Homo sapiens: one gene and its partners. The protein of the gene in region 1 purifies or fractionates together with the protein of each later gene. This does not show direct contact. Each region holds a gene or a part of one and is shown in the gene's direction. Other genes may lie near its edges. The genes, in order: DCST1, KCNG1, KCNT2, ADCY3, SNX14, HERC3 and ABCB9.

Evidence for each region.
Region 2: the proteins of DCST1 (region 1) and KCNG1 purify together in Homo sapiens (affinity purification with mass spectrometry; one large-scale study listed by BioGRID and IntAct). This does not show direct contact.
Region 3: the proteins of DCST1 (region 1) and KCNT2 purify together in Homo sapiens (affinity purification with mass spectrometry; one large-scale study listed by BioGRID and IntAct). This does not show direct contact.
Region 4: the proteins of DCST1 (region 1) and ADCY3 purify together in Homo sapiens (affinity purification with mass spectrometry; one large-scale study listed by BioGRID and IntAct). This does not show direct contact.
Region 5: the proteins of DCST1 (region 1) and SNX14 purify together in Homo sapiens (affinity purification with mass spectrometry; one large-scale study listed by BioGRID and IntAct). This does not show direct contact.
Region 6: the proteins of DCST1 (region 1) and HERC3 purify together in Homo sapiens (affinity purification with mass spectrometry; one large-scale study listed by BioGRID and IntAct). This does not show direct contact.
Region 7: the proteins of DCST1 (region 1) and ABCB9 purify together in Homo sapiens (affinity purification with mass spectrometry; one large-scale study listed by BioGRID and IntAct). This does not show direct contact.

What each region holds. Positions count from the first base shown.
Region 1 is NC_000001.11:155,047,157-155,051,490, forward strand, and holds the end of DCST1 (E3 ubiquitin-protein ligase DCST1), read left to right. Parts: intron 1-39; coding exon 40-156; intron 157-630; coding exon 631-773; intron 774-900; coding exon 901-1,014; intron 1,015-2,112; exon of another isoform or gene 2,113-2,205; intron 2,206-3,450; exon of another isoform or gene 3,451-3,460; coding exon 3,461-3,712; 3' UTR 3,713-3,774; downstream 3,775-4,334. Other genes in the region: ADAM15 (disintegrin and metalloproteinase domain-containing protein 15 isoform 6 preproprotein), read left to right, coding at 4,231-4,309.
Region 2 is NC_000020.11:51,019,800-51,024,688, reverse strand, and holds the start of KCNG1 (voltage-gated potassium channel regulatory subunit KCNG1), read left to right. Parts: upstream 1-1,581; 5' UTR 1,582-1,819; exon of another isoform or gene 1,820-2,035; intron 2,036-4,889. UniProt on the Homo sapiens protein: Regulatory alpha-subunit of the voltage-gated potassium (Kv) channel which, when coassembled with KCNB1 or KCNB2, can modulate their expression and their gating kinetics by acting on deactivation upon repolarization and inactivation during maintained depolarization.
Region 3 is NC_000001.11:196,423,206-196,427,539, reverse strand, and holds part of KCNT2 (potassium channel subfamily T member 2), read left to right. Parts: intron 1-1,551; coding exon 1,552-1,688; intron 1,689-4,334. UniProt on the Homo sapiens protein: Sodium-activated and chloride-activated potassium channel. Produces rapidly activating outward rectifier K(+) currents. Contributes to regulate neuronal excitability.
Region 4 is NC_000002.12:24,910,021-24,914,354, reverse strand, and holds part of ADCY3 (adenylate cyclase type 3), read left to right. Parts: intron 1-4,334.
Region 5 is NC_000006.12:85,516,963-85,521,296, reverse strand, and holds part of SNX14 (sorting nexin-14), read left to right. Parts: intron 1-3,248; coding exon 3,249-3,289; intron 3,290-3,421; coding exon 3,422-3,541; intron 3,542-4,334. UniProt on the Homo sapiens protein: Plays a role in maintaining normal neuronal excitability and synaptic transmission. May be involved in several stages of intracellular trafficking. Required for autophagosome clearance, possibly by mediating the fusion of lysosomes with autophagosomes.
Region 6 is NC_000004.12:88,703,624-88,707,957, forward strand, and holds part of HERC3 (probable E3 ubiquitin-protein ligase HERC3), read left to right. Parts: intron 1-474; coding exon 475-658; intron 659-884; coding exon 885-987; intron 988-3,128; coding exon 3,129-3,337; 3' UTR 3,338-4,334. UniProt on the Homo sapiens protein: E3 ubiquitin-protein ligase which accepts ubiquitin from an E2 ubiquitin-conjugating enzyme in the form of a thioester and then directly transfers the ubiquitin to targeted substrates.
Region 7 is NC_000012.12:122,927,911-122,932,230, reverse strand, and holds the end of ABCB9 (ABC-type oligopeptide transporter ABCB9), read left to right. Parts: coding exon 1-39; intron 40-2,059; coding exon 2,060-2,320; 3' UTR 2,321-3,239; downstream 3,240-4,320. UniProt on the Homo sapiens protein: ATP-dependent low-affinity peptide transporter which translocates a broad spectrum of peptides from the cytosol to the lysosomal lumen for degradation.

The sequences.
Region 1 (4,334 bases):
CACCTGCCCTGACTTCCCTACCTGTCCTCCTGGCCGCAGGCAGTCATAAACTGGAGGTGAAGGTCGGGGGAGACTCCATGCTAGCCCGGCTTCTTCGAAAAACCATTGGGGCCCTGAACACCTCCTCAGAGACAGTGATGGAATCAAACAACATGCGTGAGTGATGCTGAAAGTTTGGATCAGAGGAATCGAGGGCGGTGGGGCAAGGGTCAAAAGACTCCAAGGTAAAGAGTTAGGGGCCTGGGCCTTGGGTGTGGAGAGATGGGGGTTGGAGCGCTTGAGCTGGGGAAATCGGAGCAGGGAACACATCTGGGCAGGCTTGAAAAAGGGGAGCATGACCAGCTTCAGTCAGAGGAGTCTGGAGGCCAGGGTCTTGTGGCTAGGGGGCCCCAGCCCTCCAGAGCAGCACTGTCCAACAGGACATTCAGTCAAGATAGAAATCTGCAAGATCTGTGCCACATTGGGCCCAGCGGCTACAGTACTGACAGGGCAGTTCTGCAGTGAGGGGCAGGCAGGAGGAGAGCAGGGGAATCAGAGGACTGCACCTCCCACTGGGATGGGAAGTCCAACCCAGGGCTGCCCTGCCCCTTGGCTGGTCCTGACCAGACCCCTGGCCTGCCCCTCCCCTAGCCTGCCTGCCCCAGCCTGTGGGCCTGGATGCCAGGGCCTACTGGAGAGCTGCAGTACCGATTGGCCTGTTAGTGTGTCTCTGCCTGTTACAGGCTTTTGGCTACCGACTCCGGAGGGTCATCGCAGCCTTCTACTTCCCCAAGGTTTGCCCCTCCCCAGACCTCTCCACCCCTACACACCTGCACACACACACACACACCACCCAGCTCCCTACCAACTCCATATTTGGGGGATGCCTTTCTCTATCATTGACCCCCTTCCTGCCCCCAGCGAGAGAAGAAGCGGATCCTGTTCCTCTACAATGACCTATTGAAGAAAAGAGCAGCCTTCACCAAACTCAGGAGGGCCGCTATCCTGAGGCGGGAGCGACAGCAGAAGGCTCCGGTAAGTCCAGGCGTAAGTGCTGCTGCCAGCTCCTGGCTGGGTCTAAGTACAGCAGGCAAGGGGCAGCTCCCTTCAGTCCACCCAGCACCCACCAATGGTCGCAGGCCTACTCGAGCCTGGTAAGTTCTTTTTATTTTTTGAGATGGAATCTCACTGTGTCGCCCAGGCTGGAGTGCAGTGGCACGATCTCGGCTCACTGCAACCTCTGCCTCCCAGGTTCAAGCGATTATCCTATCTCAGCCCCCCACTCCACAAGTAGCCAGGATTACAGGCACACGCCATCACGCCCAGCTATTTTTTTGTATTTTTAGTAGAGACAGGGTTTCACCATGTTGGCCAGGCTGGTCTCAAACTCCTGACCTCAGGTGATCTGCCCACCTCAGCCTTCCAAAGTCCTAGGATTACAGGCGTGAGCCACCAAGCCCAGCCAAGCCCGGTGTAATCTGATGCAACACATGCTGAGGGCCCCAGCCATCCAGCTCCTAAGGTCAGGGCTGTGCCCGTTTCTGAATCCCAGGATTCAGCCCAGCCTAAGACACTCAGTGGACCATTAGGAAGCAGGCAGAAAAGGAGAATGAGATTTAATACAGTCTGCTCATAGAAAAGCAAGAGGGCCGCACAGAAACAGGAGGCCCAAGGCAAAACCAAAGTTTCTACCAGAGGGCTGCAGACCAGAAGCTCAGTGCAGTTCAAGGGACAGGAGGAGGCAGGTGGGCTGGGAGTCAGGAAGGCCTCATGCAGGGGCACATGGTAAGGCACATGGAATCTGAGGAAGCAGACTCCAGTCCATACTCCCTCATTAAGTTGTGTCACCTTGGCCAAGGTCTTCACTGAGCCTCAGTTTCTCCCTCTGAAGAATGGCAAGACTGGAGAGATCTGTAAGGCCTGCTCACTGGAGATCAGCCTAGAGTGGTGGTCAGGTGTGGGACTCCGGTGCCAGAGGGCCTAAGTGTGTATCCCGGCTCCTTCCCTCATTACTATGACAACGGTGTGACCTTGAGCACATGACTTAACTGCTGTGCCTGGGCTTTTGCCTTCCATAAAATGGGGTTAACTACTCCATCTGGTTGTTTTAAGGATTAAATGAGTTGTACTTACATGGTGCTGGCATGCAGCAAGTTCCATATGCATGCATGTTATCATTGGGTGACCCTGGGCAGTGATCACATCTCCAAGCATCAGTTTTCTCACCTGAAAAAAAGGAGATGATAATAACACTATCTGCCTTACATGACAATTGAATTGAATTTTTTTTTTTTTTTGAGACTAAGTCTCACTCTGTCGCCCAGGCTGGAGTGCAGTGGCGTGATCTTGGCTCACTGCAACCTCCACCTCCCCAGTTCAAGCGATTCTCGTGCCTCAGCTTCCCGAGTAGCTGGGATTACAGGCACACACTACCACGCCCGGCTAATTTAGAATTGAAATAATTTATGTACAGTATCTTAGTACAGGACCTGACATTATAAACAATGAGTGGCAGCCATTCTTATTTAATCAGTCCTAACAAAGTTCATAAAAGTGAGACTGTGTTTGCTTAGCTTTTTCCCTAGGGCCTGGATACCCCCAGCCCCCATGACACACAATAGGGGCCAAATGAATGTGTTGTGAAAAAATGAAAAACAAAAAACAAAAAAGAACATGCTGGGATTCCTTGACAGGGTCGTGAAGCAAACTGAATGTGAATGCACAGATGGAAATGTGCCAGACAGTCATTCCAAGCAGAATGTGCAAAGACTCAGTCCACAGGGAATGCGAAGTGCCAGGGCTAGTCTCAGGAGAAACTGGCTCAGAAGAGACAGCTCTCAGGGAGGGCTAAAGTAGGAAAGAGGCTAGAAAGGGACCAGGTGAGGGAAGGCTCTGAAGGCCAAGCCCAAGAGTTCTGCCTGTCTGGCAGGCAGCAGGGCCTCTGGAGTTTCTTGGGCAAAGAGTGGCTGCTTCCTGGGTAAGGTGGCCTGTGGAAAATCCCTGACAACTGTGTAGAGACATGTCGTGAGGGATGGCAGGGAGCATAGTGAACTAGGTTTGTGGTTTGGAATCAGGGCCCCTGGGGTCCAGCCAAGTTGGATTGTTTACTATCTGTGTGACTTTGAGAGTCACTTCACCTTTCTCAACTGTAAAGTGGGGATAGCAACAGTGATAGTCGATCTGGCCTGCTCACTTCTCAGCCTCACTGTGAGAACCAAATAAGATGATTTACAGGAAAGTGCAAATGAGAGTTGTGGCTGATATCCGCTTGGAGAGAGCCTGGAGGGTGCATCCTCCCATTCTCCATCACAGAGTTGGGGAGGGAGGCACCCTCGCCCTCCAGGGGTTTCCTTTGTCCAACCCAGCCTCCTCCAACACGCGGGAATTGTCAGGCCTGGCGACTTCAGACAGGAAACGCTGTCCAGTTCCCCTTCTTTCCCGCCTCGCTCCCGGGCTGGCGCTAACGCCCACCTCCCAACAGCGCCACCCGCTGGCGGATATCCTGCACCGCGGCTGCCCGCTCCTGCGCCGCTGGCTGTGCCGGCGCTGCGTGGTGTGCCAGGCACCCGAGACGCCCGAGTCCTACGTGTGCCGGACGCTGGACTGCGAGGCCGTGTACTGCTGGTCGTGCTGGGACGACATGCGGCAGCGGTGCCCGGTCTGCACGCCCCGCGAAGAGCTCTCTTCCTCCGCCTTTAGTGACAGCAACGACGACACTGCCTACGCGGGGTGAAGAGGCGTCCTGCTCGCTCTTCCGCACCGTCCTTCCCGGTTAATAAAATGCCCTGTACGCTTCACGTGGGTCGGGGACTGGGGTGAGCCGCGCACTGCCTCGCCTGCAGTCGGGAAAGCCTGCCCGCCCGACCTCTCCGAGCCAGGCCGCGCACAGGAGGCAGGGAGGCCGCGAAGCTACTAGGGAGGGGTCCGGACCTGGCGCCGGGTGAAGGCGCGCCGCCCAAGCCGGTCGGACCGGGCACCGGCTCCCACTCCGCACAGTTGCGGGGAAGCGGTAGCGCTGAGCAGCGCGGGCGTAGTGGGCGGTGTCCCCGCTCCCGAGGCACCCGGCGCGCAGCGGGGCGGGCTTTGCCGGGGGCGGAGCTTGGCTTGGGGCCGGGTGGGAGGGGGCGGGCCGGGGCGGGGCCTGGTGGCCGCGCGGCGCTGCTGGGTTCTCCGAGGCGACCTGGCCGCCGGCCGCTCCTCCGCGCGCTGTTCCGCACTTGCTGCCCTCGCCCGGCCCGGAGCGCCGCTGCCATGCGGCTGGCGCTGCTCTGGGCCCTGGGGCTCCTGGGCGCGGGCAGCCCTCTGCCTTCCTGGCCGCTCCCAAATATAGGTGAGTCCTCCGCCTGGAGTGGGTC
Region 2 (4,889 bases), on another chromosome or scaffold:
CTCCACCTCACCAGTAAGCCAGTGTTTTTATTCTTGTTGTTTTAGAGGCTGGATCTCGCTCAGTCACGCAGGCTGGATTGCAGTGGTGCCATCATAGTGCACTATAACCTGGAACTCCTATGCTCCACCCGGCTGGGACTGCCGCGCAGGCTAGTGTGCCCTGCGCTCATTTCTTAGGGTTAACCCTAACCCACTTAATGAGCACCCACGACTCCCCAACCCGAGCCCCACTCAAGCAGAAGGCCTCAGGCTGGTCGGCAGCAGGGTTTCTTCATGTCCTTTCTTGGTTCTCTGATGATAGGCAAAGGCAGTAGAGACAGAAAGGAAAAGAGGAACGGAGTGCAAGAGACAGAAAGGAGAAGAGGAACGGAGTGCAAGAGACAGAAAGGAGAAGAGGAACGGAGTGCAAGGCAAGCCACCCTAAGAGGCCAGCCCTGCCAGCAGCACAGATCCCTCCAAACCAATAGGTCCCTCCAACTCAGTAGATTCCTCCAACCCAATAGATCCCTCCAACCCAACCTCCAGCATCTGTGCAGCATCCTACCAACTCCGAGGCTAGGCGGCCACACTGGGAGCAAGACCCCAGGACCTGGTCCAAGTGCCCTGCACCGGCCAGGGGAGTGGACGACGAAGTGCGGCTCTGCTAGCCCGGGAGGGCTCTGGGGCCTCGGCCCCGCGGGACTGGAAGGGAAAACACCTGGCACGGTACGTACTGGCCCTAGGAATTTGGCACAGCAAGATGCTGGCAGTCCCTGGGTGGCGGTGGCAGGAAGGGCCCAAGGGCAACATTGGTCTAGGAGGTCGAGAAAAGGCGCGCGATATATGGCCCCCAGGATGTGGAAGCTTGCTTGGAGCGTTCGGCTCCAGGGCAGCAGCGCGTGGAGGGCCTCAAGGATGCAGTATTTGCCCGGGGTAGGGGGGCGAGGGACCCAGAGGCAGCAGTGCACTTGGACTTCCAGGACTTCCAGGGAAAGGCAGGAGACATGGCGCATGTGGTTCCCAGGATGTGTAAGCGCGTGGAGCGCGGCCCCGGGGCAGCGGAGAGTGGGGTTTTAATATCTAGCACATGTAGACCCTGGGGCGGTGCTGCTAGGGGCGCGGACCCGGGACCACCGGAGCACTTGCACCGCGGGGAAAGCTGACAGGGCGCGCGACCCTAGGAGGCTGCCGCGCCGCCTGGTGCGTGAAGCTCCAGGGCAGCGGAGCGCGGGGACCTTGAAGGCTGTCGCGTGCAGGCGAAGGGGCCGCAGGGTGGTCGCTCCTGGGAGAGCAGACGGGGAAGAAGGCAACGGGAGGGAGGGCGTAGCGCGAGCAGTCCCGGACGCGGGCTCAGGAACTGGCCGCGAGGAGCGCAATCCAGCAGGCGCGCCAGGGCCCCCGGATCCAAGGTGCGGGGTCCCGATTGGGCGCCTGGACGCCCCGTGACGGTGGCGCCGCTGCCACTGTCCCGAAGCGAGGCGAGGCCAGGCGCTGCGCTTTCGGCTGCCCGCCCCTTCTCCCCGCCCCGCGCTCAGTCCCCTCCCTCCGTCCCGCCTCCTGCCTCGCTCCCTCCCTCGGCGGCTGCTGCGCCGCGCTCCCGGCGCACTCGGAGCCCGGCGGGGACCGGGAGGCAGAGACGGGGCGGCCGTGGCTCCGAGGGCGGGAGCTGAGCCGGGCCCCGGGACCGAAGTTTGGCGGCGGCTCCGGGAGGCAGAGCGGGCTCCCCGGGCGACTTCCAGGCCCCTCTCGCGTCCTCGCCCCGGACCCGTGGGCAGCCGGGGGGAACGGAAGCCGCGGCCGGGCCAACTCCGAGGCGGGGACGCCGCGACGGGAACTTGAGGTGGGAACTTTGCGCGCTGCAGCCTCGCCGGGCGCCACCGAAGCGCGAACCGGACCCCGAGCCTGCAAACTCGGGCTCGGGGGCGGCTGCACGTGGCCGTGGCCCTGAACTCCCTGCGGGGGCCTCGAAACCCGCCTGCGGGGAGGCCAGGGCGACAGAGGACTCGGGAGTCACCGCTGGTGCGTGGCGGCGTGGAGCGCGCTTGTTACGGCCAAGGTGCGGGTCCGGCTTCGGTTCATCCCAAGGGGTCACCGGGATGCGAAGTCCGGGACGTTCGCCGCCGCGGTGACCCCGGCGGGGGCGCATCCCGGCTGTGGGCCGAGGTTTCTCCCCCGATCCTGGGAGGAAGGAGAGTTAGGGATTGGGGTGGGGGAGTGTGTGTCACTTGCTCATTCACTGTATCCTTAGGCACAGTATGGAGCCCCCCTTCACCCCCACCGTGGGCCTGATTGAGTCATTCATTATGAACACAGCAAGCGTTTATTGAGCGCCTACTGTGTGCTAGGCACTGGGGATACTGAGACAGTTCACTGGGCACCCCCAGGAACTGGTAGGAAGGTGGTGGTCTCAGCCTTAGGGTTTCCATGTGGGAGAGAGGCTCAGCCCGGAGGTATGGAAGGAAAAGGGTGAAGTTCATTCATTCATTCATAGATTGGACAAAGATTGGTTGAGCACCTATTGTAAGCAGCTCATCATACCAAGCGCTCAACAGTCATTCATCCAGTTCACAAACATTTATGGAGGCGCTATGCTGGGGAGAAGTGAAGAGGGATGGAATGGGGGCACCCTTCATGCAGCTTAGAGAGAAGTAAGGATTAAGACCCAGGCCCCCGCTTGGGAGGCCGCAGACTGCCGGGGTGGCCAACTGTAGCAGCCCATGTATATAGGCAGAAGTCTTGGTTCATCTAATGCATTCCTTCTCAAGGTGGGAGGTGTGGAAGCTGGAATTGGTTCTAGAATAGGAAGAAAAGATCTTTTCAAAGCTCCTTAGGGGCGGGTGATGGGGTAGGGTGGGGAGGAGTTGAGAAACACTGATCCGACATTACTGAGGAATGCAGGTTCCCACCAATGGGGTTTATGAGTTAGGTTGTCCATTCAGCAGGCATTTTCTTAAGCACTCGCTGTTATTAAGCACTTAAAGGGTGCCAGGCACCAAAGTTACCCAGGTAAATGACAGACACATAGAAGAGGGAGACAGACACAGACGCCCCCACCCCCTTTGCTGACTCCCTGAGATAAGTACAGGGGGAAGTAAGAGGAGGGAGCAGGAACTGGTCTGATTCATTGTGGGGTGGGGGAAGTTCCTGCCCTATGAATCTGAGCAGAGGTTTATTCATTAGTGTGTGTTTGATACCCCCATACCCATGATGGCAGAGTCCCTATGAAGAGCCTCACCGGCAGCACATCTCCAAGAAAAGTTTGGCACTGCTGATTGGGGCCTTGCGGTCGGCACTGTGGCTAGGGCATGCTGTCCTTCTTTGGGGGATTTTTCAGGCTCTGCCAGACCTGAGCTCTATTTGTGCCTCCCCCGGCTTTTGGAGCCCTGCAGAGTCGCCTGATAGGAGGGGAAGGAGGGAAGGTGTGTTTGAAAAACAGGCAAGCGCTGGCCCCTGGGGATCACCCTCCTCAGTCATTCTCGAAGCCAGCCCGTTCCACGGGAAAGATGTCTGTCCTGGGACACACTCCTAACCTGCAGGGAACTGCAAGCACACTGGAAACGAGGCAACCTAGGTTCTTCTCCTGAGACTTGAGAGCCCAGGCCCGCAGCCTACAGCCTGGGTTGTCAAACCTTGGGAGTAAAAAAATCAACCAAACCCCTAGTTTTGCCAAACTCTGGGTTGCCTTTTTGGCCTCTGGGAGGGAGATGTGACATGGGAGGCAGAGGTTACTTGCTTCTCCCCATCCCCAAAGACTTTCCCGAAGCTTGTCCTGGAGCCTGATTGGGGCAGATCTGAGCACCACTTTGAATTCTCTGCACCAGACCCACAGCTGGGCTCTGGCAAGAGGTGAGGGAGGTGCCTCAGGAAACAGAAGAACAAAGAGATGTGTGCTGGATGCAGGGCTAAGCGACGCAAACCAGCTCCGAGGAACTCACCTCCTGGAGCCGCAGTAGGTACCTTGGCTCGGCTGTCCTTTCTCCACCCTGCTTTCCAATGTTGATGAAGAGTCAACATTGCCTGTTGCCAGAGGTCTAGGGGTACAGGAATCTACCCTTGGTTGTTGCATTAAGCCCAGAAATGGAGCCTGTGGGTGAAAAATGGCAGCTGGTAAAGCCCCTCTAAATAGAATTAATAAAAAGGGAGAGGCGAAGAACCTAGCTGAAGCACTCCATTGCTGTGGACCATTTTTATCATCCAGCAGACTGTATTTGATTAACGAAATCAGAAATGAAGTGACTTTGCTACAAATAGGATCTGAATTGTGCCTAAGACTGTCCGTTGCCCTGAGGTGAGTCTTCACTCTCATACCCACACCTCCCCGGGCAGGTCCGATCATGCTCTCCCTCCAGAGGACTCTGGTAAGCAGGTGTCTCCCTTCCTGCCGTCCTGAGGTCCCCACTGCTCCCCCAAGCCTGCTTCTCTGCTTAATTTTGAGCTACAAGGAGGCAAAGAGAAAAGGATCTTCTGGCTCCAGTCCCCAAACACCTCCCCGTAGAAGAAGGCAAACGCAAACGTGCATTTGGTGTTATTTTGCTTGCCTGCAGCACAGCAGGGAGGCTCCCGAGGCAGCCTGTCTTTTTTATAGGGGGGAGGGACACTGGCACTTTTTCTCATTTGGGGGCAAGGGAGGGATGGAGGGAAGAGCCTAGCTCCCAGCACACAATCTCCCCAGGAACTTGGGCCCCAGCTTTCAGGAGGCTGGGCCAAGGCCCAGGGTGGTGGGACTGTGGCGAGAACAGACAGCAGGTGGCTAAGAAAGATATATTCTCCACCAGGGCACAGCAGCTCTTGGAAATCTAACATGCCAGGACCCGGGCCAGGCTAATGGTTGGATCCATTTTGATTAACGTTTTAATTGGGGATTAATGCAGCCTGACCCGCCTCTGAGTCGGCTCGGCCAGAAGCCCTAA
Region 3 (4,334 bases), about 41 Mb from region 1:
TCTATGCAGATAAAATTCTTGAATATTTCCACTTTCTGCTACGGGCCATGGCATTAATCTCCTTTCCTGCTTACTGCACTTAGTCTGTTGAAGGTCTTGTATTTACTCAACAAAGTTTTGTCAAGAAGTAGAATAACTCCAGACTTCAAGACAATGCTTAGTATTTCTAATTATCCTTTCCTTACAAAACATAGAAATATTGATTTGTGAATATTTTGTAGACCTTTATAAATACTATATTTTTGTGTTTTAAAACACCTAATTTATAATTGATTCTTAAATGATAGAATCATTTTGTTCTATCTTAAATGGCAGAATCATTTGGTTCTTATTCTTTTGTTTTCATATGTTAACTTGCATTTTTAATAGCAACTCCATACTTGTTTTTTTAATTATTTATATTTAATTAATTTCAAGCTTACTTATCATAACTCATAAAGGAAATCCATTTGTGGGAAAATTTTGATCCCATGGTGTATTAGCCTGCTCTCACACTGCTATAAAGAATTACCTGAGAGAGGATAATGTATAAAGAAAAGAGATTTAATTGGCTTACGATTCCACAGGCTATACTGGAAACATGTCTGGGGAGGCCTAAGGAAACTTATGGTCACGTGTAATGCGAAAGGGAAGCAGGTGTGTCTTCACATGGCCAGAGCAGGAGGAAGAGGGTGGTGATACATACTCACTATCAGGAGAACAGCAAGGGGGAAATCTGCCACCGTGATTCAGTCATCTCCCATCAGGCCCCTCTCTTAACATTTGGAATTATAATTTAACATGAGGTTTGGACAGGGACGCAAATCCAAACCATATCATACAGTCATTAACTTTATCTAGTATCAATGTAGAGAATTATTTAAACTCCAGAAATTCCTAGTAGATATATTTTACAGCAGTAAAATGGTGAATGTTTACCAGAGAATTTTAATTTCTATAAATCATTGGTTTAAACTGTTTCACCACTCAGATGTAATTTTCTCCAAAGGACCATATATTTTGTAATATTTTGATATCATGTTCATTTAATTTACTTTGTCAGTATTTTCAGTGTTTTTATGGATCCTTATTCATTCAAATATTCATCAGAAACTGTTCAAAATTATTGTTTCATAATTATATAGCTAAATGATATAAATCGCTATCACAATTTTGATCCTAAAAGTAATGAAGTATGAATTGATACTTAAATGCTTCTGCCTGGTGTTCAATGTATATTTTAGGATCAGTCTGTAGATAAAACTAAAACCTTCACAAGCTGAAAGTGTGTGCCAGGTATAACCACTGATTACCTTCCCTTATGGTCTTAGTAAGACTGAAATAAGTTGAGATGAATTTATTGATTTATGAGATTTGTGTATGTCCCAGTTGTATTTATTATAGTGTAATTGCTATTTAATATATGTCCAGGTTTTAAATGTGAAATTTTATTAGCAAAAGTTCATTTCAGTTTTATCATATTTCAAATTTTTCTTAGATATTTTATTTTTCTATGTAGTGTAACATAAAACATTTTTGTTTCTATTCCATTGCCCATTTTGTTTTGAATAGGATTATTATGTGGTGATTTTGTGTCCTACTGAAATGGATGTACAGGTTCGAAGGGTACTGCAGATTCCAATGTGGTCCCAACGAGTTATCTACCTTCAAGGTTCAGCCCTTAAAGATCAAGACCTATTGAGAGCAAAGTAGGTATCCCTGCCTTTCATCTTGCAGCTTACAGTTTTGAGTGACTTAATATTTTCTCTTTCCTCCAAATTTTAGCAATTTTCAGTGTTGCAAGATGTGTTAAAGTATGTTTGAGTATAGACTCTTGCCTTAGTCCCTCTGCTGGCCAAACTAAAAGGTCAAAAATATATCATAAAATCAGTGTGTTTACTCCTCTTTTTCAGCCTCATCTCAAGGCAAAACTGTTCAGAAGACTGTGACCACACAGCACAATGAAAAAAGTGGCCCAGAATAATTATCTTAAGCTGTCAGAGATTCACTGAGGTATCCAGACTCACTGTTAGAGTAGTCTCCAAATCCCCGAATACTGTTTTTATCCCACATATAAAAATTGTGGGCTAAATATGGTGTGACATACCAGTGCAGTGTGAGTTAGGGTTTACATTTTAAAGAGCTTGCACTATGTATTGGACACATAGCACTTGTGTTGCCTGGGGTCAGAGAAAAAATGGTTGCCATGGACTAGAGGAATCAGAAAGGTGACAGGACTTACTTAGCTACCCTCAGCTACCCTCTTCTTTTTGTGCATGTACCAGGCAATTTGTCTTAAAGGTGACATAGTCTTAAACATTTGTCACAAGTTACCAAGTTGTATCATATGAGTAGAGTGAGAGTATTATTGAGCATAGCGTGGACACCACAGAAACAGAGTTTCTGCAAAACAGTCTCCTTAGTTTCAGATGCCAGAAGGTATCTTCAACAAAAGTGGTTTTGCTCAATATTTTCTGCTGTTTTTAAAGTTTTAAACATATCTTCATGTTTACCCTTGAGTTGTCCTGCATACTCTTCTAGATTTAAAAGTCTCCCACTGAATTGAATAGCATAAGTGCTTTATACTTTTTTTTTTCTTTCCTGGATAACCTGAGTGTGCATGAGCGGGTGTGTATTTGTGCCTGTCTTCACTGTGTGTGCAAGTGTGTGTGTATGTGTGTGTGTGTGTCTGTCTAGTGGGTGTTGGAAAAGAACAGAAGAAAAGTCAACTGTTTTGTGGAACAGACTTCTGGACTCCTTTGTGCTGCATAATCCTTCAAATGATGACTAGATACCTAGTCAGGAACTCTGATGTTACCTTTGATTTATATATAATAAAGTCGATTTAATGGAGTTTTTTTTCAATGATTCAACTTCTGAAAAAAAAACAGCACGAGAAACTAGCAGGATATAATGAGTGTTATCTAATTGGAAAATTACATTTCTTTGTGAGTATTTTCATCTTTTTGGTGGATTAAATACTTTATATTTGTGGTCATTGTACATGTGACAGTTCTTTAAGTCATCAGATTTTCCCAGCACCTCAGGTAAACCCTGGCTTTAGGTGTTTACTGTTTGCTATCTATACTCATTATTTGGGTGTGCTAGAGAAATAGATGCTTAGATACTACTGTAATCTAGATCATTGTATTCATTGGTGTAGATAATCAATATTCTTAATTTATTGTATGATAGTTAAGTTCTTCACACAATAAACATGAATAACATTCATATTATGTTCAATATGAATTTGTGTAATACATGGAGGCTTCTTTCCATCTAACAAATTTATCTGAGTTATTGGTATTAGCTATTAGTATCTAAGCTATATACTATTTAGGATTAATGTAACTAATTTATTACCAATAGTCTTAAAATGATGTCTTGGTAAAAGCGACCATATTTACAAGAAGAATTCCTCCATGTGATAAAAGAAAAGGGAAGGGAATGAAGGAGAGAGAGAGGTAGCTATCTGGTCATACTCTAAAAGCTATTTAAAAAAACAAGTTAGAGTGACGCAGTATCCATTTTTATGTTCATTTCCAATCTTAGCTTCCTATAAAATATTTGGGATTTAATATAAACTAATACATTTTTCAGTGCAATTCCTCATGCATAGAGCATGGAGTAGGATTCTCCAAACAAGTTTCATAGGTTAGTTACATGAGTTTTGAATTGTTTAGTTGAAAATGGTGTTTAAAGAAAGTTATCCAACACTCATATTATCTTAATAACCATGGTGCAACATTTTCCCAGAACTGTTTGGTTTGGTCTTATTTCAAGGACTTTTATATTTCCTCCCCATAGAAACCATTTTTTTTTTTGGAAAATATTTACTTTATCACAGAGAACCACAGAGATAAATGATTCCTCATTTTGAAAATAAACATTCTTGTGCTCTTAGAACATCATGTATCAAACACTAAAATATACTGTGTCTTTATCACTAAACTTAAGAAATATTGAACCCTAGTATGAGGGGAAGGGGCTTGGAAAAAGATGATGAATGATCTCCAGGAAGTATAAATACAAACTAGAGTTTTACTTATGAATACAGAGGAGCTGTATTCCACCCCTCTTAGTTTGATTCAGACATTACAGTTAAAATACTATTAATCATAAAATAAAGACCAATATAGCCCCTTAATTTACTCAAAGCATGCATATAAAATATATTTAATCATACAAAGAAATAACATTTGGCTTTTATTAACTTTTGTCATAAAACATTAAGTTATAATAGACAACCCAATAGCAAATTTTTTTTTGTTCAAAATCAGATATAGTCATGATCTGCTAGAAATTCAACTTTCATTTAAGCTTAAGGATATACATGGTCTACATGTACATTTTGT
Region 4 (4,334 bases), on another chromosome or scaffold:
GTTCACTGTCACCCATCACTTTGGTGGCAGAAACAGGACGGGAGCCCAGGCGTTGACTCCCAGCCCAGGGCTCATTTGTCTGTGTTCCATGGAGCACTGATTGCTGCTCCATGGGTCCCCCATCCCAAGAGGCAACACAGGCCCAGAGCAGCCGGAAGGGAGGACAGATGGATCAGGAGGAGCCGAGGCTGGCAGTGTTTGCCCATTTCGCTCCCCTGGCCTGGGTCCTGCCCCAGGACCTGTTACGGAATTACTTGCCCTTTACTGCCCTAAACTGCCCCTGGGCTGGGTGAGGAGGAAGGAGGGGACTGGGCTCAGGACCAGGACCTGCAGGACCAGCGGCCAATGAGTGCGGACAATGGGGAAGGCAGCCAGGATGGTTGGGGGTGGTGGTGGGCGGGGCGTGCCTTTAGCATTTGGCAAAGTAGGGACTAGGAACTGCTGACAAATATTTTGTACCCTTACTTCAGAGCAGAAAGGCTATTTGGGAGCAAAATTCTCTCATGGAATGAAGAGCCTGTTAAGACCTTTTTTCACCAAGTAAAACATGAGGAAGCTGTGGATGTGCAGTTTCTTTCACACCTGCAAATTACACAGCAATCATTCACCCAGCAAAGGAACATTTGCTCCTAGGGGCTGGAGGGAGCTGCCGTAGGGAGGGTGAGAGGAAACTGAGGCTTCCAGAGACACCCTGTCTGCAGACGGCAGGTAGCTGTTGCATGCACCTCATCCCATTTAATCCTGGATGTTACTGGCTCCATTTCACAGATAAGGGGACTGAGGCTCAGTGAGGTTGAGAGGAGGTAGTGGGGCTGGATTACAGGGGAGGGGTCACTGATGAGTGAGAAAGGTGGGTTGGGGGACTTCCCTGAAAGCCTCTCTTTCTCTGGAACCCAGGCATCTGGGCCTCCTACTTTTCTGGCTGCCCCCAAATGTCTTTGCTAAGCAACGTAGCTGAACAGTGCCAAGAGATGGCAGTCCCTAAGGTATAACAGGAGGCACCCCCTTCTCCCCATGGGAATTGGATGCAAAGAAGGGAGAAGCCCATGACGATGTTCCCTGTGGGCACGTGGCCAGGAGTACTTGAGAAAGGCAGGGGGCTGAATCGGGACAGGAGCTGGTGTGAGGTGCGGTGGGCAGGAAGCAGCAGGCCTGGGGGCTTTCAGCCTTCAGGAAGCAGGCTGCAGGGAGAGGTGTGCAGGACACAGAGCAAGAGGAGGCAAACTCAAGCCAGTCCTGGCTCTTTGGCCCTGGGCTCCTCCACTGACCCGGGACGGGAAAGAAGCCGTCATCCCTCCGTGGAGAGTATGCAGATGGGCATCAGTGGAGGGTCCAGGGACCAGAACAATGATGACGTGCGTAGAAGGGGACTGCAGGGCCATCAGATTCAGCTGCATGTGAGGAGGAATAATCAGTCATTGAACATGTAAACAACTTTGCAGAAAATCAACCCCTCCATCCTTTCCCTGTCGCAGCTTTCTGTGGCCTTTTCTGACCCCGATCTGTGTATAAACAGAGCTTTCCCAGTTTGTCATCATCATGCATATGCAATTTAGGCCCCACCTTTCATCCACATTATTTCCCTGACATTTTGCTGTGAACACTGGACTCCTCGTGTTTATTATTTTAAATCAGCGCTTTATAGTCAGCGAGTTTTTCTAGAGAGGAAACGGAAGCCCAGGGCTGGGCCAGGGGTGGGTAACTGGGTAGTTTTATATGCACATGCAGGCACACACACACACACACACATGCACACACACACACACATGCACACACACACACACATGCACACACACACACACATGCGTGCTCACTCCTGGGCTTGGTCTGCCCAGCCTTCTGGGTAAACCCTCCGTCAGATGGAATGGCTGGGATGCCAGGGTTATTGGCATTCTGCAGTTTCTTCATAAACAAACAGCAAATCCCACGAGGGTGGTCTAATGCTGGGTAAATATTCCAACACCACCCTCTGCCCCTGGCTGCCCCCCCACCAAATTACACATTCTTTTTGTTTTTTCTTTTTTTCTTTTTCTTCTTCCTTTTTTTTTTTTTCAAATAGAGACAGAGTTTCACCATGTTGCCCAGGCTGGGCCTGAACTCCTGAGCTCAGGCGGTTCACCCACCTCGGCCTCCTAAAGTGCTGGATTACAGGTGTGAGCCACCATGCCCAGCCATCACCAAATTACACGTTCTTGATAATAGATTCCACGGGTATGTGCTATCACCAACACGGAGACTCAGAGACACATTGTGCGTAGGTCGAGGCCCATGAGCAGGGACAGTGAGGAGGTGGCTGTGTTTACTGAGCTCTTGCTCTGTTACAGTTTAGTGCCTTCTGGCAAGAGGCAAATATTATTTCCATTTTACAGATCAGGAAACTGAAATGGGTGACAACTGAAATGACTTGTCCAGGGCCACATGCCTAGTAAGAGGCAGAGCAGGATTGGAGCCCAGGTCAGTAGGATTTTGGAGTTCCTTCTCACTGGAGTCATAAAAGAACCCATTAGGCGGTGACCAGTAGCTCATGCCTGGAATCCCAGCACTTTGGGAGGCTGAGGCAGGAATATCACTTGAGGCCAGGAGTTCAAGACCAGCCTGGGCAACATAATGAGACCCCATCTTCATACACACACACACACACACGTACACAACCACCAAAAAAAATTCAGCTGGGCTTGGTGGTGTGTGTGTGTGTGTTTTTTTTTTTTTTTTTTTTTGAGTCTGTCTCCCAGGCTGGAGTGCAATGATGCTATCTTGGCTCACTGCAGCCTCCGCTTCCCAGGTTCAAGCAATTCTCCTGCCTCAGCCTCCCAAGTAGCTGGGATTTCAGGCACCCACCACCATGCCTGGCTAATTTTTTTTGTATTTTTAGTAGAGACAGGTTTTCACCACAGTAACCAGGCTGGTCTCGAACTCCTGACCTCAGGTGATCCACCTGCCTCGGCCTACCAAAGTGCTGGGATTACAGGCATGAACCACAGCGCCCAGGCTGATGGTGTGTGTCTTGTACAGGAGGCTGGGGAGGGGGATGGCTTGAGCCCAGGAGTTTGAAGTTACAGTGAGCTCTGATCATACCACCCCACTGCAGCCTGGGGAACAGTGAGACCCCATCTCAAAAAAAAAAAAAAAAAAAAAAAGAACCCTTATATCTTCCCTCGGAGCCTGTTGAGATAGTTCCAACGGGGTTAGGGTTTTGGTTTCTCAACCCACAAGCATTAGAAGGAGCAATTTGGGGGATGAGGAGGTGTTTTTGGGGGCATCTTCAAGGAACAGAGATGTCTGGGGTGTTGAGTGTTGCAACCAACAGCCCTCATATGCACCTTCTCTGGCTGTAGGAGGCGTTGTTACATTATAGGACAGCATAGTAACTGATGTGCATAATGGTGACCAACTCATCAAGAAAATATTAAGGCCAGGCGCGGTGGCTCACACCTGTAATCCCGGCACTTTGGAAGGCCGAGGTGGGTGGATCACGAGGTCAGGAGATCGAGACCATCCTGGCCAACATGGTGAAACCCTATCTCTATTAAAATACAAAAAATCAGCCGGGCGTGGTGATGCACGCCTGTAGTCCCAGCTACTGGGGAGGCTGAGGCAGGAGAATTGCTTGAACTTGGGAGGCAGAGAGTGCAGTGAGCTGAGATTGTGCCTGGTGACAGAGGGAGACTCTGTCTCACAAAAAAAAAAAAAAAAGAAAAGAAAAGAAAGGAAATATTAAATTGCATTTAGCATAAAGTGTAGTGTAGTATCTAAAAACATTTTCCTCGGGAATGGATAACACAAGTTTGAACAAATAAGGATTATATTTGGAAATTCAGTAATGTGGGATGGCTCATTACTCAGTGTTACTGAGTATATGTCCATTTATTCACCATGTGTTTTAGTTATCCACTGCTGTGTAACAAACAGCCCCAAAATTTGGAGGCTTAAAAGAGTAACAGTTTAAACCTGGGCAACATGGCAAAACTCTTGTCTCTACAAATGGTACAAAAATCAGCCAGGCATGGTAGCATGTGCCAGTAGTCCCAGCTACTCAGAAGGCTGAGGTGGGAGGATTATGAGCCCCGGATGCTGCAATGAGCCATGATCGTGACACTGCACTCCAGCCTGGGTGACAGAGCAAGACCGGTCTCAAAAAAGAATAAAAAAAGAATGACAGTTTATTGTTTCTCATGATCCTGTGGGTTGACTGTTCAGCTGGGTGGTTTTTGTGCTTCACGTGGCATGGGCTGGGGTCACTCATTTGTCCACCTGCGCTGTTTCATTCACCTGCAGCATTCAGTTGCCAGCTATGCTGGCAAGTTCTAAGAAGCCTTTACTCATGTCTGGAGCCT
Region 5 (4,334 bases), on another chromosome or scaffold:
ACACCACTGTGCTCCATCCTGAGTGACAGAGTGAGACCCTTTCTCTAAAAACAAAAGAAAAAACACTTCACAAAAGAGGAAATCAATATATGGTCAATAAATACATGGAAAGGTGCCTAATTTTATTAATAGGGAAACTCAAATTAGAATCATGTTTGGGAAACACCGCATTCACCAAAGTTTTTAAAAGTCTGATTATACTAAGTGCTAAATATTGGTGCAGATGTAAAGGAACAGGAACTCTTACACACTGTTAGTAGGACTATAAATTGAAAAACTACTTGGAAAAATTGTTTGGTATAAAAACTGAAGGACCCAGCAGTTCCTCTCTCAGATATATACTTTGGAGAATCTATCCATGTTTAAGAACGTTCATAGTAGAGTTCTTTGTATAGCCCAAACTAGAAACAGCACAAATGTTCATCAGCAATTGAATGGACAGATAAACTGTGGTAAAGTCATAACGTTGAATACCCATATCATGAGGCTACTAGCAACAATGTGGATGAACTTTTAAAAATGTTGAATGAAAGAAACAAAACATGAAAGAATATATACAGTCTGATTCTTTTTACATAAACATCAAAACAGACCAAACTAGTGTAAGCTGGAAAAGTTTGAATAAAATTGTTAAAAAATCGTTGGGCGTGGTGGCTCACACCTGTAGTCCCAGCAATTTGGGAGGCTGAGGCAGATGGATCACTTGAACTTAGAAGTTCAAGACCAGTGTGAGCAACATGGTGAAACCCTGTCTCTACTAAAAACACAAAAATTAGCTGGGCATGGTGGTGGGCGCCTGTAGTCCCAGCTACTCAAGAGGCTGAGGCAGGAGAATTGCTTGAACCTGGGAAGTGGAGGTTACAGTGAGCCGAGATTGCACCACTGCACTCCAGCCTGGGCAACAGAGCAAAACTCCATCTAAAAAAAAAAAAAGGTAAAAAATAATATAGCATTGACTAGTTGCAGTGGCTCACACCTGTAATCCCAGCATTTTAGGAGGCCGAGGTGGGTGGATCACTTGAGGTCAGGAGTTCAAGACCAGCCTGGCCAACATGGTGAATCCTTGTCTCTACTAAAAATACAAAAATTAGCTGGGCGTGGTGGCGTGCACCTATAATCCCAGCTACTTGGGTGGCCTAGGCAGGAGAATTGCTTGAAACTGGCAAGTGGAGGGAGCCGAGATCATGCCACTGCACTCCAGCCTGGGCGACAGAGTGAGACTACATCTCTACTACTATTACTACTACTACTACTGCTACTACTACTACTACTACTACTACTGTATAAAAGCAATATTTCTAAATATATTTTATTTTTTATTCATTTGTATTCATTATGGTTTTTAGAGACAGAGTCTCACACTATTGCCTAGGCTGGAGTGCAGTGGCACAATCATAGTTTTTTTTTGTTTTGTTTTGTTTTGTTTTTTGAGACGGAGTCTCACTCTGTCACCCAGCTGGAGTTCAGTGGCACGATCTCAGTTCACTGCAACCTCCATCTCCCGGGTTCAAGCGATTCTCCTGCCTTGGTCTCCTTAGTAGCTGGGATAACAGGCGTGTGCCACCACGTCCGGCTAATTTTTGTATTTTTAGAAGAGACGGGGTTTCACCATGTTGGTCAGGCTGGTCTCGAACTCCTGACCTCGGGATCCGCCCGCCTCGGCCTCCCAAAGTGCTGGGATTACAGGCGTGAGCCACCACGCCCAGCCAACACAATCATAGTTCACTGCAGCCTCAAATCCTGGGCTCAAGTGATCCTTCCTGCCTCAGCCTCCCAAAGTAGCTAAGACTACAGGTACACACCAGCACACCTGGCTAATTTTTAAATATCTGTAGAGATGGGATCTCGCTTTGTTGCCCAAGCTGGTCTTGAACTCCTCAATTGATCTTTCCACCTTAGGTTCCCAAATTGTTGGACTTACAGGCGTGGAGCCACCCTGACTAGCCTCTAAATATATTTTATATGATGTAATCTGAAGTAATGTATATGGAACTAAATCAGTGAGTTAAATAATGCAAGTAGACATTTGGCTTCTGTCTATACCCACACCCCCACCCAAATCAATACATTTATTTGAGTCAAAATATTTAGTGTTTGTGTATCTTTTTATTGGGGGAAAAAAGTGAGGACAAAATATTTGGTTATATATGGCATTTAGGAGATTGGGTATTCCTGGTTACTGACTAGGTTTGATTGAAGAAGAAATGATCAGGGATGATCCAAGTTTCTATTTAAATAACTGGATGAATGCTGTTACTTGTTGGAATAGGGGATACATTAAGAGCAGTTTTGAACTTACTGAGTTTATAGAATCCAGTTGAAGTTTTATAAAGCAGGAGAGTCCAGGAGACAGGCAGAGATTAGAGATTTGAATTTTATTTGAAATCAGATTGAGCAAATAATTTGGCTCAGTAAGAACACATAGAAGACAGAAAAGCATAGGATGAAACCATATAATTTAAAGAACTTGGGAACATTCTAAGGAGGGGGTGTTATGAGAACCAGAAATACCAGAAATAGCCAAATGGGAAGGTTGGGTGGTTTGCCTGTCACAAAACAGTATTTTTATTCTTTATTATTAATGTCCCCTTCTATTGCCATAAATCTACTTTTTTCTGATTTGTTCAGAAAGCAGTTTAAGTTGTATTTATCAATTTTGATTGATTTTTAAGTCATTTCTAAATGCTGGAGAAAATCTCAAGATGTTTGATGTTTCAAATTAAGGGAAGCTGGAGATCAAGAAGTAATTTTGGCAAACATAGGATTTAGAATAGAAATTCTTAATCTAAAATTCAGAATATAAACTACTGAAATAGTTTTAAATATTGAGGCAGTTCTTAAAACTTTTTTTTGACTGACCTTTGCATATCTTTAGATACCATTATATATTCACTGTTACTGAAAACCCTTTGAAAATATTTCTTATAGAAATTTTCACAAAAGTAGACAAAATTATGTAATAAACTTCTTACTCAACGTTGTTATCAACCCTTGGCTTGTTCCATCCCTTCTCCCACCACTTACCTCACTGGATTTTTTTAAAGTAAATCCCAAATATTCTATCTATAAATATTTCAGAATACCATATTTATTGAAAATTTCCATGGAGTGTGAAATGGTCAATCATAAATACTTTTACAGTTTTAACTTGGCTATTTCGTATTTAAAATTACCTGGTTAAGTATTCATGTGAGCAATTATGAAGAGTTTTATGCCTTCCTAAAATAATGTTTTACTTTTAATTGCAGGGAAAATTATAAAATCTGTTCCTGGAAAACTAATGAAAGAGGTGAGTAACTGATTTATGTGTGTTCTATAACATGATAATCATAAACATATTTAAATATTGATAAATTTTGCTGGATTATGTACTAAAAATTACCTTTATTTTTTATTTTCTTACAATAATCTATCACCACAGAAAGGTCAGCATTTGGAACCTTTTATCATGAATTTCATTAATTCTTGTGAGTCTCCAAAGCCTAAACCAAGTAGACCAGAACTGACCATTCTCAGCCCTACTTCAGAAAACAACAAGAAGGTACTGCACATTGCATTAAAGAACTATTAAGTTTTAAGTTGCCCTACTTGAGATTACTTTTTCATTGTCGAGAGAATGAATACTTTGTTAATGAAATGGATTGAGCTATACATTTCCTTTATGTGGAAATCAGTTGAACGGTATACAGAGGGTATTGTGTGTAATTACTTGGTTCTTTGCTTTAATGTGGTAAATGTTTCTCTGGATACTATATTTGCAAACTGATGCCACTTCTGTATTTGGGGATTTTTAAAAGTGGTTTTCTTAGGTTATATGTCACCAACTTTCAATAATAAGAAATTAATTGCTATACTGTGTTTATGTTTATTGGATGGCATTACCTAACTTTCATGGCTTATAAAGTATTTTATCCATTCATTAAACAAACATTTTATTACATGCCTACGATTGAGTGCTAGGCACTGGGAATATAAGGATACATTCCTTGTCCTCAAGAAGGTGTTTAGTGCCAAGGTGTAGTGCCCAGCATGGGGAGCTATGGAAGCTCAGAGGACCTCTATCTTTTATTTTTGTTAATACTCTGAATGGTATCTTTAATATTATTAATGTTTTCATTTTATAACTTGTATATATAGATAGAAAATTTTTATTTAGTCGTCTTGCTAGACTTAACATTAGTTTTAGTAATATCTGGTAATTCTTTTATATTGACACAATTGTTGCAGATGATTGCAGTTTTGTTTTATTCCTGACTAGGACTGCTATATAGAAAGGAAATTGTTTAATTATTTCACCATCGAATAGTGTGGTGTAGCTCTTTTTGTATTAATAG
Region 6 (4,334 bases), on another chromosome or scaffold:
AAACAAGGAGTTATAAAATGAACCTTTTAAAACAGGTGAGGATACAAGTATCAAGTGGTTTAGCTTTATTTGTTTCTGAGGAAAATGGCCTAGAACTGTTATCCTAGACTTTTTATTTTAAGCAGAAAAGGTCTTATTATTTTTTCCACACTAAATTTTAAGCAGGGCTTTTAACATGAAAACTGGAATACCTCAGGTAAAGCCAGTAGTTTAGTTCTATATACCTGGCCTGCTGCCCTTCCTATCTGGCTTATCCTGCCTTGGATCACCTGAGGCACTTGGTGGAATGTTAGGGCTGGGGATGGAGAGGGAGGAGAGGAGAGCTGGTAACCTATATGATGCCTTAGGATGCCTCCTGATTTGAGAATTTGATGAAATTCTATTTTTTATCACTCCCAATCTCAGTGTAGAAGGGTAACTTCATAAGCTTTACAAGACTTTGAGCTAAATGTATTTTCTTTTGTGTTCTGGCAGGCAGGAATTTGTGGATGCTTATGTGAATTATGTCTTCCAAATCTCAGTTCATGAATGGTACACAGCCTTCTCTAGTGGCTTCCTAAAGGTGTGTGGTGGCAAAGTACTTGAGCTCTTCCAGCCTTCAGAACTGAGGGCTATGATGGTGGGGAACAGCAACTACAACTGGGAAGAACTGGAAGAGGTAAGCACAAAAGATCCTTTAACTCCTTTAACTCCGGCGAAGCAGCAGCAGCCTGGGGAGGTGTTCCCAGAGCCTGGTCTCGTTCCAAGCATACTGTGGTTGAGTTAGATTTAGAGGTGTCCTGTATCTCAGCACTTATTTCTTAGCCTCAAATGCAAATGATATATAATGTCCACTATAATATTCTTCCAAGATACATTTTTTTCTTTTTCTCTTTTTTGGACAGACTGCCATCTACAAGGGAGATTACTCGGCCACACATCCCACTGTAAAACTATTTTGGGAAACATTTCATGAGTTTCCATTGGAAAAGAAGAAGAAGTTTCTCTGTAAGTATCAGTAATCTCAATATGGTATTTGTCTACATTTTAGTCTTACATACAGTATAGGATGACATGCTCCACAGCTGAGGCTTAACTCATTTAAATGGTAAAGACCAGGTAATTCACTATATGTATGCTTTTTGTCTTAATGTTATCTCAGGCACAATATAGGTTGTTAATCCAGATCTGTTGCCTAACAAGAGGGGTTGCATGAAAGGAAGAAAAGAAGCATCTCACTGATTTTTCTTTTCTTTCTTTCTTTTTTTTTTTTTTTGAGACAGAGTCTTACTCTGCTGCCCAGGCTGGAGTGCAGTGGCGTGATCTCAGCTCACTGCAACCTCCGCCTCCTGGATTCAAGTGATTCTCATGCCTCAGCCTCCCAAGTAGCTAGGACTACAGGCACCTGCCACCATGCCCGGCAGATTTTTATATTTTTAGTAGAGATGGGCTTTCACCATGTTGCCCAGACTGGTCCTCGTCTTGAACTCCTGACCTCAAGTGATCCGCCTGTTTTGGCCTCCCAAAATGCTGGGATTACAGGTGTGAGCCACCACGCCTGGCCTGATTTTTAAATTATTCTAAAAATACCAATTATTTTATATGTAAGTTATTCAAGTATTCCATTTATGAAGTCAAATTGTTTGGATTAACCTCTCTTATCTCTCTAGCCTTTAAAATATATTACAAAGTATCCAGATGGAACTGGGAAGGTGTGATTTATAGCAGCTTTATTGGGCTATAATTTATATACCATACTCATTTAAAGTGTATATTTCAGTATACACACAGTTGTGAAACTAACACACAGTCAATTGTAGAATACATTCATAACCTCAAAAAAGAAACCCCATACCTATTAGCAGTCATTCTCCATTTCTTCCCAGCTCCCCCACCAGTCTTTCTGTCTCTATGGATTTGCCTATTCTGGATATTTCATGCAAATTGAATCATATAATATGTAGACCTTTGTGGCTGGCTGAATGACATTTGAGAAGGGTAATAATACCTTTGGAAAGGAGAATGAATTCTAATTTACATGAACAAATTCAGCCTTTTAAAAATGGTTGAAATATTTCTCAGTTTGTGTCTGTGTGTAATCAGCGTCAGAAATTAGCTAGTGCATAGTATGGAATTTTAGTCATGTAAAATCAAAGCACAGGGTTTGATAGGCAGTCTATTTTGCTTTATAAGATGGAGCATATATTAGTATTAATGTAGGACTTAACAGGTTCTGCTGCTCACATGGGAGCAAGGATGAGAGGAAGTGGAGATCTTACACAAGAATTCTTAAAAAGAGGGACCACTTCTCCTCTGCCTGGCTGCATTGGCTATTGAGAAGCAGTAGTGGAAGAGCTGAATGACAGGTTAAGGTTTGCCAAGTGAGCTTGTAGGGCTGTGACATTCAAGAGATGCCTGCTCATGGTCCTGGAATTTCCCTAGAAAATGGCACTTTCTGTTCATTAGACTTACAGAAATGTTTGTTAACTCTGGAGATTTTTGGCAAGAAACTTTATGTATCACAGCCTCAGGGAATGGCAGGTTATTTGAAAGTGCTTCTTAACTAATGATTTTCTTATAGTAATTTCCAGCAATTCAACTATGAGAGTGTTGTTCAGCACTAGAAAACAAGGAGCTGTCTTTCTCTGTCTGTCTCCCTCTCTCTCTTTTGCCAAGTCACAGTGCATGTCACAAGAGTGCAATGTCTAACATAATGTTTGGGTCAGCTCTTCGGGTTTAAGAAAAATGGAGACGTGGAAAGGAGAGCAAATAGATCCTAAATGGAATTCCGTAGACAAGGTGGTACAGGCATCAGGCACTTGAGGTGAGAGGAGACCCTGAGGTCAGAGACTTCAGTCTTCTTCTGTTTTCCCCTTAAGATCAGCTCCTCTTTTCCTATGACAGCAATTCCTTCCCTCTTTGATTTTGTGAAATCTAACATTTGTGAGGGTGTACATTTGATTGAGGCCTTTTTTTTTTCTTAACGGCATCTAATTTTCATTCCACAGGATGCATATTGGCACATAAATGTAATTGTACTTCTCATGCAAGCCACAGGGTGTCATGCCTTCCTCTCCTGTTGCCAGAAGGATCTCTGAGATCCATTTTCCGTTTGCTTAGCTGCTAATGCCATTTCTCGTTCTCCCCAGTGTTCCTGACAGGCAGCGATCGGATTCCCATCTACGGCATGGCCAGTCTGCAGATTGTCATCCAGTCCACAGCCAGCGGGGAGGAGTACTTGCCGGTGGCCCACACTTGCTACAACCTTCTTGACCTCCCCAAGTACAGCAGCAAAGAGATTCTGAGTGCCCGGCTGACCCAGGCCCTTGACAACTATGAAGGGTTTAGTTTGGCCTGAGGCTTCTCAGCTTGTCCAGTATTTCCCTTCGTTCCTCAGTGTCCACATTGAGGCCTATACAGAAAATCATGGGGAGTGATTTCTATTTTTTTATTGTCTAAGTGGGTTGGGACTTTTAAATACTGAGCCTGGTTGATGTGTTTCTGGGATTGTATAGCAGTAAACAACCTTTTTGAAAAATTAGAGGTTGGGGATGGGGTGAAAAATTGGCCCTTGTATGGGAGGTGTTTTTGTTTTTGTTTTAAACCAAACTACCCAGTATTCCTTGCACTTGTGAATGTGTTGCACTCTGCTGGATGAAATGGCAGTGGATTTTTAAACTTTAATTTCCCAAATGTCTCTCTCAGCCCTGATGTTTTCTCACAGTGCTTCCTTGTCCTTCTCTTAACTTCTCATTCCTCTATAAGAATGATTTAGACTGACCTGTCCTTTTTTATCTGCGCATGCGAGAACATCACCTTCCTCTGTACACTTGGAAATGCCTCTGGCTTGTTGCAGCCCTCCTTTAACCCAAAGGAGGAAAGGACTGCTTCAGAAACTCCCAATTCCAAAAAGCTGAGTCTGGGTCCATTATTTTGGCAGAACTCCTAAGAATTTATGGGAGCCTATATAAACATATCTTGCTTTTAAAAAGTTCTTGAGGGAATAGCAACTTTCCCATGGCTGTGCCTATTTCCTAGACCTTTTAAAAGATGTGCAGAGCAGCTTAGCATTCGTTGCAGCTGAGCCTAATTTTTTCTTGCTCATCCTTGTCCCTTTGACAATAAGGTTAATTGATAGACCCACCACCTCTTGCACTCTCGCTTTTGGAGCAAGTTGCATTAACTATTTTGAGTCTCTATATTGTCCAAGAAAAGTAGAAATAATAAATTTACTTTCCCTTTTTCTATCACCTTATGTCCTCTACCATTTTCTCCTTCCTCCCTTCCCTTATTTTCTCCTTTTCGTACCCTGTGTCCTCCCTGATTTTCCTTTCGTTTCTTCTTTATTTTATCCC
Region 7 (4,320 bases), on another chromosome or scaffold:
GAAGCCACCAGCGCTTTGGATGCCGAGAGCGAGTATCTGGTGAGTCACAGGGTGGTGGGCAATGCGGGGGCAGGAGCGGCTCCAGGTGGCCAGAGCCCCCATCGCCCAGCAGATGGATGCTGAGAAGAGACGGGCCCCAGGAGCTCTCCCAGACTATCAGCCTCCTGGGCTGGTGAATTCCTGGTGTTGAGAGTGGGGAGCCAGGAGCCACTCTGGACCCAGCCTCCAGGCTCCAGGCAGAGCTGTATGGTGTGGGGCAAGAGAAGGCATCAGAATGGGGAGACCTGGGTCATGAGTGGTGGCTTACACCTGTAATCCCAGCACTTTGGGAGGCCGAAGCAGGTGGATCACCTGAGGTCAGGAGTTGCAGACCAGCCTGGCCAACATGGTGAAACCCCATCTCTACTAGAAATACAAAAACTAGCCAGGTGTGGTAGCACATGCCTATAATCCCAGCTACTTGGGAGGCTGAGGCAGGAGAATTGCTTGAACCTGGGAAGTGGAGGTTGCAGTCAGCCGAGATTGTGCCACTGCACTCCAGCCTGGGCGACAGAGCCAGACTCCATCTGGCTCAAACAAACAGACAAAACAAAACAAAATAAAATAGGCCCAGTATGATGGCTCATGCCTATAATCCCAGCACTTTGGGAGGCCAAGGCAGGTGGATCACTTGAGGTCCGGAGTTCGAGACAAGCCTGGTCAATACAGTGAAACCCTGTCTCTACTAAAAATACAAAAATTAGCTGGGCATGGTGGTGCATGCCTGTAACCCCAGCTACTCGGGAGGCTGAGGCAGGAGACTCACTTGAACCCGGGAGATGGAGGTTGCAGTGAGCTGAGATTGTGCCACTGCACTCTAGCCTGGGCGACAGAGTGAGACTCCATCTACAAAAAAAAAAAAAAAAAGGCTGGGCGCAGTGGTTTATGCCTATAATCCCAGCACTTTGGGAGGCCGAGGCGGGTGGATCACCTGAGGTCAGGAGTTCAAGACCAGCCGGGCCAACATGGTGAAATTCCATCTCTACTAAAAATACAAAAGTCCGCCAGGTATGGTGGCAGGTGCCTGTAATCCTAGCTACTTGGGAGGCTGAGGCAGGAGAATAGCATGAACCTGGGAAGCAGAGGTTGCAATGAGCCGAGATTGCACCACTGCACTCCAGCCTTGGCAACAGAGTGAGACTCCATCTGAAAAAACAAACAAACAAACAAAAACAAAAAACAGAATGGGGATACCTGGATTAGCAGCTCCGTCCTACAGTTTATAACTGTGTGACCTCAAGCTAGTGCTTCCCCTCTGAGTCGCATTCTCACTGGTCAGGTGGGCCCAGTCATGTATTTGCAGATGGCTAGCAACCTCAGTCTATGCGCGGATTGATTCATTTGTTACACAGAGAGTTACTGAGCTCTTCTCAGGCACCAGGCACCAGGCACCATTCTGGGGTTATCGTGGGCTAACTAGACAAAGACCCTTGTCCCCATGGTGTTTCCATTCCAGTGGGGAAGGCAGATAAGAAACAAGGAAGGCCAGGCGCGGTGGCTCACACCTGTAATCCCAGCACTTTGGGAGGCCGAGGCCAGGCGGATCACAAAGTCAGGTGTTCGAGACCAGTCTGGCCAACATGGTGAAACCCTGTCTCTACTAAAAATACAAAAATTAGCTGGGTATGGTGGCGGGCACCTGTAATCCCCTAGCTACTTGGGAAGCTGAGGCGTGAGACTCGATTGAACCCACGAGGCAGAGGTTGCAGTGAGCTGAGATCGCACCACCGCACTCCAGCCTGGGTGACAGCAAGACTTAAAAAAAAAAAAAAAAAAAAAGGAGGGGGAAGGGAAGGACCAGAAGACTGGAGGGCCAGGGTAGAGCTGATCCCCCATTCACCAGGTGCCTCATTGTGTCTGGCCCTGAGCTGTCTCCCTTTAAGAAAAACCCAGGAAGCTGGCCATCGTTTGTGAACTGAGCCTCAGAGAGGTTAAGCATCAGCCCATAGGCCGTGGCATGAAGCACGGTTGCGGGTGGGGCGTCCGTGCCATGCAAGCCAGGCCCCCACTGTCCCCGCAGATCCAGCAGGCCATCCATGGCAACCTGCAGAAGCACACGGTACTCATCATCGCGCACCGGCTGAGCACCGTGGAGCACGCGCACCTCATTGTGGTGCTGGACAAGGGCCGCGTAGTGCAGCAGGGCACCCACCAGCAGCTGCTGGCCCAGGGCGGCCTCTACGCCAAGCTGGTGCAGCGGCAGATGCTGGGGCTTCAGCCCGCCGCAGACTTCACAGCTGGCCACAACGAGCCTGTAGCCAACGGCAGTCACAAGGCCTGATGGGGGGCCCCTGCTTCTCCCGGTGGGGCAGAGGACCCGGTGCCTGCCTGGCAGATGTGCCCACGGAGGCCCCCAGCTGCCCTCCGAGCCCAGGCCTGCAGCACTGAAAGACGACCTGCCATGTCCCATGGATCACCGCTTCCTGCATCTTGCCCCTGGTCCCTGCCCCATTCCCAGGGCACTCCTTACCCCTGCTGCCCTGAGCCAACGCCTTCACGGACCTCCCTAGCCTCCTAAGCAAAGGTAGAGCTGCCTTTTTAAACCTAGGTCTTACCAGGGTTTTTACTGTTTGGTTTGAGGCACCCCAGTCAACTCCTAGATTTCAAAAACCTTTTTCTAATTGGGAGTAATGGCGGGCACTTTCACCAAGATGTTCTAGAAACTTCTGAGCCAGGAGTGAATGGCCCTTCCTTAGTAGCCTGGGGGATGTCCAGAGACTAGGCCTCTCCCCTTTACCCCTCCAGAGAAGGGGCTTCCCTGTCCCGGAGGGAGACACGGGGAACGGGATTTTCCGTCTCTCCCTCTTGCCAGCTCTGTGAGTCTGGCCAGGGCGGGTAGGGAGCGTGGAGGGCATCTGTCTGCCATCGCCCGCTGCCAATCTAAGCCAGTCTCACTGTGAACCACACGAAACCTCAACTGGGGGAGTGAGGGGCTGGCCAGGTCTGGAGGGGCCTCAGGGGTGCCCCCAGCCCGGCACCCAGCGCTTTCGCCCCTCGTCCACCCACCCCTGGCTGGCAGCCTCCCTCCCCACACCCGCCCCTGTGCTCTGCTGTCTGGAGGCCACGTGGATGTTCATGAGATGCATTCTCTTCTGTCTTTGGTGGATGGGATGGTGGCAAAGCCCAGGATCTGGCTTTGCCAGAGGTTGCAACATGTTGAGAGAACCCGGTCAATAAAGTGTACTACCTCTTACCCCTAACCTCTGACTTCTACTTGGGCCAACTGCCTCATCGCCCAGTTAGGTTTTTCCACCAGACCACGGCTCTCCTCTCAGCCCTCTCTGGTGGAGTTGCAGAGAGACTTTGGGTGGTCCAGGGCCTCCCCCTGTGTCTGGGAGCCCCATCTGCACTCCTCCCATCCCAGGGTCTCTGGTGTAGACATTCCTGTCTGCCTGTCTCCACGGGGATTGCGCAGGGGGATAGAGACGTTGCCTTGAAATCCCAGGGGCCTCTGTGCTTCCCGGGACAGCTGAACTGAGGCCCAACAAATGCCACCTGTTCTTTTCCATCGGGGCCCAGGCACCCGACACCCACCCCAATCCATGCAGTAAAGAAATATTACCCAGGAGGACAGCTCAATCAGCAGGGAGGTTTGGGCCCGGACACAGGAAGACCCCTGCGGTGGTTATTCTTACTTGCTGAATTGTGAAGAACTCTGGGGTCCCAGGAGGAGGGCTCTGTGCCAACTGGTAGAGTAGTATTTCAATTTTTTTTTTTTTTTTTGAGACAGAGCCTTGCTCTGTCACCCAGATTGGAGTGCAGTGGCACAATCTTGGCTTACTACAACCTCCACCTCCCGAGTTCAAGCGATTCTCCTGCCTCAGCCTCCTGAGTAACTGGGACTACAGGCACCCACCACCACACCCGGCTCATTTTTGTATTTTTAGTAAAGATGGGTTTCACTGTGTTGGCCAGGCTGGTCTCAAACTCCTAACCTCAGATGGCCTGCCCACCTTGGCCTCCCTAAGTGCTGGGATTATAGGCGTGAGCCACCGCGCCTGGCCAGCCTTGTCTTTCTCTTATAAAAGCACTTGTCATTGGATTTAGAGGCCACCTAGATAATCCGGGCTGATCTCATCTAGCGGTCCTTTGCATCTGCAAAGACCCTTTTTTCCAAATACGGTCACTTCACAGGTTCAGGGGTTTGACAAGGGAAGCTTTTGGGGGCCACCACTCAGCCTGCTACAGAGGGGAACTTGCAACCTTGGTTGAAGTTAACCTCAGGACTTCCTTTTTGATTTTAGGAAGCAGAGGGGGTTAAGTTTTCAGAGACTTAGCATA